Linked DNA regions of Homo sapiens: all the other regions are linked to region 1. Evidence: fine-mapped expression QTL. A gene starts in region 1. Each other region holds a variant in brackets. All regions are shown on one strand. Distances are between the middles of the regions. Region 1 holds the start of TMED4 (transmembrane p24 trafficking protein 4). Region 2 has its middle 5.0 kb from the start of NPC1L1. Region 3 has its middle 92 kb from the start of ADCY1. Region 4 overlaps OGDH (oxoglutarate dehydrogenase).

Region 1 (2,683 bases):
TTGTTATATATTAAGAGACATATATTTGTATGAAATGCAGTAAGTAAACCTTGTTTGGACCCTAAATATCTAATGTACAAAATTTTTTAAGGCAATGGGGAAAATTAAACACATACTAGGTATTAAGTGATGTTAAATAATTTTTAAAATTTTGGTGGGTGTGATAATAGTATAAAGTCCTTATCTGTTAGAGACACACACTGACGTATTTATAGGTGAAATGACATGATGTCCAGGATTTGCTTTAATATACAGCACTTCAAAAAAAAATGCAGAAAGGGATACATGAAATGAGAAAGGCAGCAAACTGTTGTTGAAGTTGGATGATGAGTACAGCCCTCCGTTATTATCCAAGGGGGATAATTCCTGGACCCCTACGGATACCAAAATCCAGGTATGCTCAAGTTCTTTATGAAAGTTCATTGTAATTATTCTATTATATAAAAGTTTCGAAATTCTGTTGATAAAATGTATTTTTAGTAGAGACGGGGGTTTCACCTTGTTGGCCCAACTGGTCTCGAATTTCTAACCTCAGATGATCCACCAGCCTTGGCCGCCCAAAGTGTTAGCATTACAGGCGTGAGCCACCGCGCCCGCCTGGCCTTGATAAAAACAGTTTTAACCTTCCGTTGCTTCGATTCCATGCCCACTAAGTAACATTCCAGTTTGTTTTTCACTTTCAAAAGGATGTGCTGTAACTAGGGGATGTAAACAAGCTCCATGACCCTACTTATTCCAAGTTTTCGTTCCACTCTCCCACCTTTTTTTTAAGACAAGGTATCACCCTCGGTCGCCCAGGCTGGAGCGCGATCACTGCTTAATGCATCCTCGACCTCCTGGGTTCAAGCGATTCTCCTGCCTCAGCCTCCCAAGTAGCTGGGACTACATGCGCACACCACCACACCGGTTAATTTTTTGTAGAGACGGGGGTTTCACCATGTTGCCCAGGCTGGTCCCGAACTCCTGGGCTCAAGGGATCCGCCCGCCTCAGCCTCCCAGAGTGCTGGGATTACAGGTGCCAGCCACCGCGCCCGGCCCCAGCTTCTTAAAAGAATGATCCGAAACTATGGCAGCACTGGGCTTTTGGTCCCCACCCAAGAAATGCCCGCTCGCAGAGGCTCGCCGCGGCAGGCTCTCCCGACGTGACAGAGTGTGGGTCTGGATTCAGCCTCGGTTCTTACGAGTCAGATAGGTGGACACGCAAAGCAAAACATCACAGGGCTTTTTGTATTTAGCACAGAAAACACTTGTGAGCCCGAGCTGAGAACCCAAAAGGCACGCTTCAGGCCATCGTAGCCACCAAGCCTGGTCAGATTCCGTCCACCGTCTCCTTGGTGCTCCGAGACCCAAATCGCTGACTGGGGCCGAGGGCGGGCGTGACTGCGCAGGCGTGCCTCCCCTGCGAGATGCCGGAGGTAAGCTGCGGGGTAAGGGGCGAGAAATTAAGGGCGAACGTCATTGCGCATGCGCCCTCTACTCTCGTTGCGGGGGTAGGCGGGCGCCGGGCTGTGTGAGGGGGCGGGGCGCGGCAGTGTTCGGTACGGATGGAGTTGCAGGAGACGGCGAGTACATATCACTGCGCAGGCGTCCTCTTCCCCTAACTCTCAGGGTCGCTAGGGTGGCGCGCAGGCGCAGAGCGATGCGCAAATGTGCGCAGGCGCTTAGGGGCTGAGGCGCGATGGCAGGTGTCGGGGCTGGGCCTCTGCGGGCGATGGGGCGGCAGGCCCTGCTGCTTCTCGCGCTGTGCGCCACAGGCGCCCAGGGGCTCTACTTCCACATCGGCGAGACCGAGAAGCGCTGTTTCATCGAGGAAATCCCCGACGAGACCATGGTCATCGGTCAGGCGGGCTGAGGGTGGGGAGGCCCTTTGTACCCAGCTCAGCCCTCGGCGGCGCTCCCTCCTCCCGAGCCCAGCCGGGTCGCTGGCTCCCCCAGTACCTAGCCTGAGGGTGCCCCGAGGACGCCAGGCCCCCTGCCTAGAGCTCCGGGCCGCACGTCGGAGGGGGCCGGGCGGAGAGGCGGCCCACTAGGGCCGGTCGTGACTATGTGTCTGCCCCGCAGGCAACTATCGTACCCAGATGTGGGATAAGCAGAAGGAGGTCTTCCTGCCCTCGACCCCTGGCCTGGGCATGCACGTGGAAGTGAAGGACCCCGACGGCAAGGTAAGGCTGGCGTTGGCCCACGCAGCCGTTCTTCAGTGGAGCTCCCGTGGGGTGTAAAGCACTGCCTGGAGGAGGCCTCAAGGGACAGGAACTTGCACTTGGAGAGCCTGCGGTATAAAGGTGGGGCCTTCACTCACATATGTTGCAGGTGGTGCTGTCCCGGCAGTACGGCTCGGAGGGCCGCTTCACGTTCACCTCCCACACGCCCGGTGACCATCAAATCTGTCTGCACTCCAATTCTACCAGGATGGCTCTCTTCGCTGGTGGCAAACTGGTAAGAGGATTTTCTCTTTGGCTTCAGCTTAGAATCTCTCACTTGTTTCCAAATTTTGATTTATCAAGATTGTGAAACTTTGTAGCACAGTCAGAATTGGGGAGACAGATGTTGCCTTCTGCTCCACAGCCAGGGACAATAGTGGGTTCCATACCCTGGAACAGACAACTGGAGGCCCCACCACTCATACATTCCATGTTTCCTTGTAGCGGGTGCATCTCGACATCCAGGTTGGGGAGCATGCCAA
Region 2 (2,683 bases), 36 kb after region 1:
TTCTTTCTTTCTTTCCTTTCTTTTTCTTTCTTTCTTTCTTTCTTTCTTTCTCTCTCTCTCCTCCCTCCCTTCCTTCCTTCTTTCCTTCCTTCCTTTCCTTTTTTCTTTTGCTTTTTTCTTTCCTCTTCTTTCTTCTTTTCTTTCTTTCTTTCTTTCTTTCTTTCTTTCTTTCTTTCTTTCTTTCTTTCTTTCTTTCTTTCTTTCTTTCTCTTTCTCTCTCTCTGTCTCCTCCCTGCCACCCTCCCTTCCTTCCTTCCTTTCCTTTTTTCTTTTGCTTTTTTCTTTCCTCTTCTTTCTTTCTTTTTCTTTTTCTCTTTCTTTTTCTCTCTCTCTTTCCTTCTCTCCCTCCCTCCTTCCCTTCCCCCTCCCTCCCCCTCTCCTCCCCTCCCCTCCCCATCCTGTCCTTGTGTGAACATAGCTCACAGCAGCCTTAACCTTGAGGGCTCAAGTGATCTTCCTGTGTCTCTTCCAAGTAGCTGGGACAGCAGGTGCCTAACCTCCGTCTAATTATTTATTTTTTTCTGCTCATCCTCTGTGGGTTGGACCCACTGCCGAACCAGTCCCAATGAGATGAACTGGGTACCTCAGTTGGAAATGCAGAAATCACCCACCTTCTGCACTGGTCTCACTGGAAGCTGCAGATGGGAACTGTTCCTATTCGGCCATCTTGGCCCCTTCCAATTATTTATTTTTTTGTAGAGACAGGGTCTCATCATGTTTCCCAGGCTGGTTTCAAACTCCTGGGATCAGGGCAGGATCTTCCCACCTCAACCTCCCAAATTGCTGAGATTACAGGTGTGAGCCACCATGCCCAGCCTGCTTTTCTATTTTGTTGTAGAGACAGGCTCTCACTACCTTGGCCAGGCTTGTCTCAAACTCCTGGCCTCAAGCAGTCCTCTTGCCTTGGTCTTCCAAACTGCTGTGATTACAGGCATGAGCCACTGCACCTGGCGGCTTCTTCTTCTTCTTTTTTTTTTTCTTTTGAGTCAATGTCCAGCCTGGAGTGCAATGGTGCGGTATGGCTTACTGCAGCCTCAAACCCCTAAACTCAGATGATCCTCCCACCTCAGCCTCCCAAATAGCTGGGACTACAGGTACATGCCACCATGCCAGCTAACTTTTTTTACATTTTATTTTTTGTAGAGATGGGGGTCTT[G/C]CAATTATTGCCCAGGCTGGTCTCAAACTCCTGGCCTCAAGTGATCCTCCCACCTTGGCCTCCAAAAGCATTGGGATTACAGGCATGAGCCACTGTGCTTGGCTCAAAGCTGCTTTAAAAATTTATGTACATATATATATTTTAAGACAGAGACTTGCTCTACTGCACTGGCTGTAGTGCAGTGGCACAATCATGGCTCACTGCAGTCTCAAACTTCTGGGCTAAAGCAATCCTCCCGCTTCAGCCTCCCAAGTAGCTGGGACTACAGTTGCATGCCACCACCCCCAGCTAATTTTTAAATTTTTTGTAGAGACAGGGTCTTGCTATGTTGTCCAGACTGGTCTCAAACTCCTGGGCTCAAGCAATCTGCCTGCTTCAGCATCCGCAAGTGTTGGGGTTACAGATGTAAGCCACTGCGCCCACGAGTTGCTGCTGAATATCCAAATTGTCTAAGCTTCTCCTCTGGGTTTAAAATGGTCTATGGCATGTCTCTACCTATAACCTCTTGCCCCAGGCATCTTTTCTGAGCAATGTCCTGATTTTAGGTAAGAGATACAGCATCTTGCATCAGTTCTTCCAGGATCCCCCAGACAAGAACAGATGCACGTAATAGTTTGCAAATAAGGCCTGCTCTCTTTGGAGGAGGGAGCTGAGAACTGTACTACTGTTGTCTCAATTCCAAAACTGTTGACTGAGTGCAGTGGCTCACGCCTGTAATCCCAACACTTTGGGAGGCCAAGGCAGGAGGATCACTTGAGGCCAGGAGTTTGAGACCAGCCCAGACAACATAGTGAGACCCTATCTCTACAAACAATTTAAAACACTAGCTGGGTGTGGTGGCACATACATGTAATTCTAGCTTCTCAGGAGACGGAGGTTGGAGGATTGCTTGAGCCCAGGAGTTTGAGGCTGCAGTAAGCCATGATTGTACCAATACATTCCAGCCTGGGCTACAGAATGAGACCCTGCTTCAAAAAGAAAAAAAAAAAAAAAAGACCAAGACTGCTGCCATGCTGGGGAAGGGGTGGGGCAAGACTAAGTAAAAACACCACAAAACTTTGCTACTGTTTTGAAGATGGCCTTTTTTAAATTGAGTGTTTGCCTGGTTGCTGTAGGCCTTTGTTTTCTAGAGTGACAACAAAGTTGGTTCTGACAGTTTGGCTTGTTTATTCAGTGTTTCAGTTTGGAAATGAGAGCTTGGAGCTTCCTAGGCCACCATTTTGCTGATGTCATTTCCAATGGCATTTTTTGCATCTCGACTTTTTCCTCGCGTTCAATGCTTCAGGACCACAAGATGGTTGCTACAGCTCTAGACCTTCCATCTGTCTAGTGTGGCGAAAAGTGGGGAAGGCTAGAATATCATGCCAGCTGCATACCTCCCCTTTCATGAGGGAAGAAAAAGCCTTCCCACGGGGATCACAGGGCCCCTGCTAGCTGCAAAGGGGTCTGGGAGAACAGGGAGAGCCTCTCTCACCTGAGCAGTGGACACAATCCTTCACCAAAGAGTGCAGGTTCTGATGGCAAGAA
Region 3 (2,683 bases), 900 kb before region 1:
CTGTGCCTTCCTTTCCTCACTTATACTATGGAGATAAAGCGGTGCTGCTGTTGTACAATTGCAGGAAAAATTATGTGACGTCACCCTCAGTATCTGACCTACAATCAGCATCTAGGCGGGCACTCTAAAGATGGCAGCAGATTCTCAGCAGAGTGGTAGTCTACACCCAGGTGAAGATCCCTTCCGTTTTCCTTGCTATTCCTGCTTCTTTGCTCATCACTATCTCACAGAAGCACAGTGACTCCCGCGCCTCCCCCTGTAGGGCAGTTCTCAGGACCGAGGGGCGATCCACGGCTCTCCTACTAGCTCCAGGTGAGCCTTCTGCAAATAGGCCACATGTCTAAGCCGTCACTCTCTGGGGATACTGCAGAATGACTCTCATGTGACAAATTAAGACTAATTCCATTGATGAGGACCCCGCCCTTGATCCTGTCACCTTGACTTATACACTGTGATGCCTGGGGGCAAATCAGCCCTGAGGGGCACCTCATAGTTCTCACAATGCTGAGGGAAAATCATATCTTTGAACCTGTTTTGCACAAAGTGAATAAACGTGAATTGTATTTTCTTGTTCTCTTGGGATGGTCTTGAAATAGCTCAGCAAGTTTGCAGATGATAGTAGCTGGATTGGTTTGGGGGTGACATGGGGATTGGCAAGGGAGGGTGGATATCAGCCCCGGATCTAAAATGATACCTTAACAGTCTTGGGAAAGGGATCCTATTTAACTGAAATAAATGCAAAGTCTTGAGATTTGCTCCCAAAATGTTTCCAACATCACAAATACTAAGTAAGGAGAAACAGAGCAGGAGCCAGCTCAACAGGGATCCCCCTACCAAAATTGGGTTAATTAGGGCATTAGAAAAAATAATGGCTGTCACTGACTAAAACGTGTTCAATTTCTAGAAATCCATGACCCCATATTAATTCTCAAAGAAGACAGCAAAAACAATCTGTCTTAATTGGTGTCTGTTGGAATGAGGTATTAAGTCAGCTCTTTCCTCTGAAAATTCACAATTAGGAGAATGAAGCCCTC[G/A]TGCCACCTTTCCAGCAGAATTTATATTTGTGGTTACTGAGTAGGCTTAGCAGATGAGATAAAATTCTTCCCTATGGAGTAAGGTCAGCTAATAAACTGAATTGATAGAGTAAGAAAATCCTCTTTAACATTCCTAGCAAAATAATTGATGTAAGCAAGGCACATCCAGGGATGCTAAGGAGGTTGATGGGATGCTGGATACTCTCAGGGTTCCAGATGCACATCCCATAGATTTCTGGCCAATACCCAGGGGAAACATAATGTTGCAATGGAGGATGCGGTTTGTCAAGTTACCCAGAGAGCTATTTTAGCATATTTTAGCTATTTTAGGCCACCAGGCAATGCATGGCTCCTGATATGATCCATCCCCTATGTGTCCTTGCCTAAATTGCTTGACTAGATCACAGCAGGTCATTGAGGGCCTCGCTTCCAGTTTATAGGCAACGCAGGAGATAGGGAACCAGTTACACACTGCAGCAGGAAGCAGGAATGAGTGGCAACAGTGAGAAGGTGGGACTCGTGAGACAACTGGCCTGGTCTCTTCAACAAGTCAACACAATGAAAAAGAGATGCAGAAGGAAAGGTTAACTAGCTTTAAAGAGCTATGAAAACATACAACCAAAAGTTTTGTCTTTGATTTGCCCAAATCACATTTTAAAAACATCTTGGAGACAACTGGAGACATTTAACTTTCGAATGGGTATTACATAATATTAAGAAACGCTTGCTAATATTTTTAGGTGTGAACAATAGGATTGGGATTACATAGGAAAATTAATTTTTATAGGAGAAAACAAAAGTGGGGTAAAATGCCACATTATGTGTAATTTACTCTAAAATACTTTGGTTAAAAACAATAGCTGTAATAAGTAGGGCAATGTGTTAATGAAATCTAGGTGATGAGTCTATAGATGTTCATTTTCATATTCACTCCACTTTCTGGTGCTTTCTTCTTCTTCTTCTTTTTTTTTTTTTTTTTTGAGACAGAATCTCACTCTGTTGCTCAAGTTGGAGTGCAGTGGCACAATCTCAGCTCACTACAACCTCCGCCTCCGGGGTTCAAGCAATTCTCCTGCCTCAGCCTCCTGCATAGCTGGGATTACAGATGTGAGCCACTGCACCCGGCTACTTTCTTGTATTTCTGAAACATCTCATACTGAACAGTAAAAAAGAGTAAAGAAAAAGATCATGGCTCAACAGTAGCTCATTAACAAAAGATGTGAGAGACTCTGTGAACTGCAAGGCTATAAAAGGTGACTGTGTGGCATGTCCACCAGTGATGCTGTAGCAGCCATGGACACCTCCATGGAAACACAATGCCCAAACCCAGGACAGAGATCATCAAGAGCTGCTCTGCCTTGGAAGACTGGAAGGAACATTGGAGAGCCAGACGACTTAAAGCAGAGGGAGCAGGGGGTGGGGAAGGCTCTGTAAATCAGGTGTTAGGGCAGAAATGGCAAACAGATTTTGTGTGAGTCTCTTCTAAGACTGTCCTTCCAGGCTGGTATGGGAGGGCACTCTGAGAGCCATCATAGGCAACTTCTTTTCCCTTTCTGAAATCCTGGCCTTTATTGGCCCACCAAATCCATTGGGGGAGACATTATGGAGCAGGATTTAAAATTTACACCAAGTGAATTTAAGAAGAAATA
Region 4 (2,683 bases), 63 kb before region 1:
TAAAATAAATCAAATTTAAAGAAAAATTTTTCTAAGTAGGAAAATGAAGGCTTAAGTGTTGGCCTTAACTGGGGAGGAGTGCAGATAAGAGGTCATCTCACTAAGAGAAGGTTTGCCTTTATTATATATCCCCGTGAGGAGTGAGGGCTCTGGTCCTGCTGCTGCTGAGTAGGTCAGCACACAGTAGTCAGAACAAAAAAACCCTGCTACACCACAGACTTAAAGCATCTGATTTGAACTATTTAAAAACCAAAAGGAGAAAGAAAATCCCTTCCAATTTAAGATTCTTTCACAACTTCTTGCTAGCAATTTGAGAAGGGAGCAGCTGCTGGTAAGTCACTGCAAGATCAGGCTGAAGTTGTTACTGAGGCCAACTGCGTGCAGGCAGTGATAAAGAAACACCACTGGGCTTCCTCCTTATGCAAATATCCACATGGATAACACTTTAAAGCATATAGCATTTACAAAACTCCATGCATCTCCTTTCTAAGGCAGAATACACTTGCCCCAGGGAGAGAGCCTTACTTGCCAGGCCATGGCATGAAGGGCCAGAGACCCAGGACCTCCCCTATGTTGCCCCATTACAACACCTGCCCATGGCCCATGCCACCAGAAACCAAAGCATGAGAGAAAAGACAGCCCAGGGACATGAGTCCCCTTGTTGCCACCAAAGCAGTTACACAAGAACAGGTGGCAGGGTCCTGGATGCCCATGGGAGCTTCCAGAAGGGAAGCACCAGGCTCACTTGTCTCTACCTGTCGTCCTTAGAACTATCACAGATGAAGTCTTAAGATCTGAACTCTAGGCTCTCCCCATGTATCAGGTGGACATCCTAGAAAAACTTTGGTTATTGTGCTCTGGGAAAGGATGGGGGGAAAAACCTTGTCCTGCTCAACACTTGCCTAACGAGACTGGCCACTAACTGCAATACTTTTGGAGAGTTCCCCTGCCCCTCATCACTCTCTGTAGGCTCAGCTGTACCCTCAGCTGCCTCTCCCTGCCTCCACATCCCCAAACTCTATAGTATGGTTTTCTTCTCTTATAGTATTCAGTTGTTAGCAACTGAGAAGGGGGCATCAACCACCCAAAAGCACCACCCCTCCCAGTCACTGCTCACTGGCAGATGGGCAGCACTTCTCCTTGATGCCCGGGTACTGACTTGTTTTCCCTGCCCACAAATATTTCTTGCCAAGGAAGGAAAGGAAATAAGGATCCCTTTTATAAGGCAGGCATTAGTGGTGCTGGGAGATTTGCTCAAATAGGGCTAGCCTGGTTCTTTTTCTTGTGTATTTGTTTTTTAGCCTCCCAAAGCAGGGAGAAAGCACCTAGTATTTGAGGAGGTATAAGTAAAGTGACAACATACACTCAGAAAGGCCAATAGGGCCCATGAGGCATGACCTAAGGAACACTGCACCCTTTCCCGTGTGCGGGTAAAGCACCCGCCTTACCTGATATGCCCTGATGAGCGACTGCACTGCCAGGTGGTCCTCCACGAGCTTGTCCACGTTGGGCTGTGC[T/C]TCTACCAGGGACTGTGCATGGGCCACAGCAGCCAGGGAGCCTCGGCTCAGGGGAAGGGGACTCTGGTAGGCAGTGCCCGGTGGGGCTCCGGCATTCGTGTTGCGAAAAAAAATGTCCCATGACTAAAGACAAAGAAGGTACAGGGTTACCTCACTGCTCCCCTAAGTCCAGGATGCATCTGTGGCCACAGAGAACTGCTCTCTGCAGGCAAGGCAAGTCTACCATAGGCTGGCTGAGCCTGCTTCCTCCTGGACAGTGGGGTCTCTGTCTGTTCCCAAACGGTGGGTTTCTCTCAGCATTCAGGCTCCCTGCTTTCCACAACTTTTGTCTTCGGGATGCACTTTCTGACCCCCACAGCTATAACACAGATGCCCTGTGGCCGCCTTCCATCAACACACATAACCCAAAGGCCCAATGCCAACAGCTCTCCTCAGTTCCTATTCACTGGGCCTGGGGACAGATTCAGGATGTAGGTCAACAGAGACACTTACTGTCTCAGCCTTCCCCCCGGCCCCAGCACCTGGGAGGTGATCTCTTGACCTTCTGTCTATAGGTCTGCAAACTCTACCAGTTTTTCTGTGGGATCAAACACCCCATCAAACACCTCCCTCAAGGCCCCAAGGGCTCAGCACAACCTGTGAAGAGCCCAGGGTCACCTTGCTCATGTCCTTTCACTTCCCTGGGAACAAAGTGGAACCTGATCCTTTGTAAGAGGCAGCACTAACCCCACAGAGAAATAATATCATTGCTACCTCAGGAGAAACTCAGGAGCTAAGAGCTCAAAGTGTGGGGTCAGAGATGGAAATTCAAATCTGATCTCTGTGTCAGGGATCAAAATTCAAATTCAAGAGGTAGGCTCTTAGTGAGTTACCTTTCTGTGCTGTTTTCTCATCTATGAGGAGAGAAATATATACATTCTTCATAGGTATGCTGTAAAGACTACCCTAGTTAAAGGCATTAGCACACAGTCTAATACTTCACAAAGTCAGGTGTTAGTTATCAGTTTGAATTTCCTTAGAAAAACTATAAACTAATTTACTTATATTCCTACTATTTTTGGCTATTCCATGTCTGAATTATTTGATTTACAATTTGCAGATACTGTGAACTGTAATGGTTTATTCATCTCATACAAAGATGCAAGTTTTTAAAATATTTAAGAGAT

Evidence for each region. PIP is the estimated chance that this variant, and not a neighbour inherited with it, causes the effect. A credible set is the group of variants that fine-mapping cannot tell apart.
Region 2: its variant is the best candidate, but not a certain one, in a credible set for the expression of TMED4 in blood mononuclear cells (TOPMed, PIP 0.76).
Region 3: its variant is the best candidate, but not a certain one, in a credible set for the expression of TMED4 in tibial nerve (GTEx, PIP 0.55).
Region 4: its variant is the best candidate, but not a certain one, in a credible set for the expression of TMED4 in whole blood (TOPMed, PIP 0.64).

Annotation. Positions count from the first base shown.
Region 1 is chr7:44,581,202-44,583,884 of GRCh38, reverse strand. TMED4 (transmembrane p24 trafficking protein 4) reads left to right here and starts at 1,654. Exons shown (of 5, transcript NM_182547.4): 1 at 1,654-1,838; 2 at 2,062-2,162; 3 at 2,311-2,436; 4 at 2,646-2,683. The coding sequence starts at 1,679. RefSeq lists an enhancer at 1,171-1,280 and silencers at 1,371-1,530, 1,931-2,030.
Region 2 is chr7:44,544,977-44,547,659 of GRCh38, reverse strand. No RefSeq gene overlaps it. Among named protein-coding and RNA genes, the nearest start is that of NPC1L1, 5.0 kb to the right of the region's middle. The variant G/C (reference allele first, on the strand shown) is at 1,157.
Region 3 is chr7:45,481,276-45,483,958 of GRCh38, reverse strand. No RefSeq gene overlaps it. Among named protein-coding and RNA genes, the nearest start is that of ADCY1, 92 kb to the left of the region's middle. The variant G/A (reference allele first, on the strand shown) is at 1,035.
Region 4 is chr7:44,644,284-44,646,966 of GRCh38, reverse strand. It overlaps OGDH (oxoglutarate dehydrogenase), which reads right to left. Exons shown (of 23, transcript NM_002541.4): 3 at 1,449-1,640. Among named protein-coding and RNA genes, the nearest start is that of OGDH, 39 kb to the right of the region's middle. RefSeq lists an enhancer at 1,027-1,527. The variant T/C (reference allele first, on the strand shown) is at 1,518.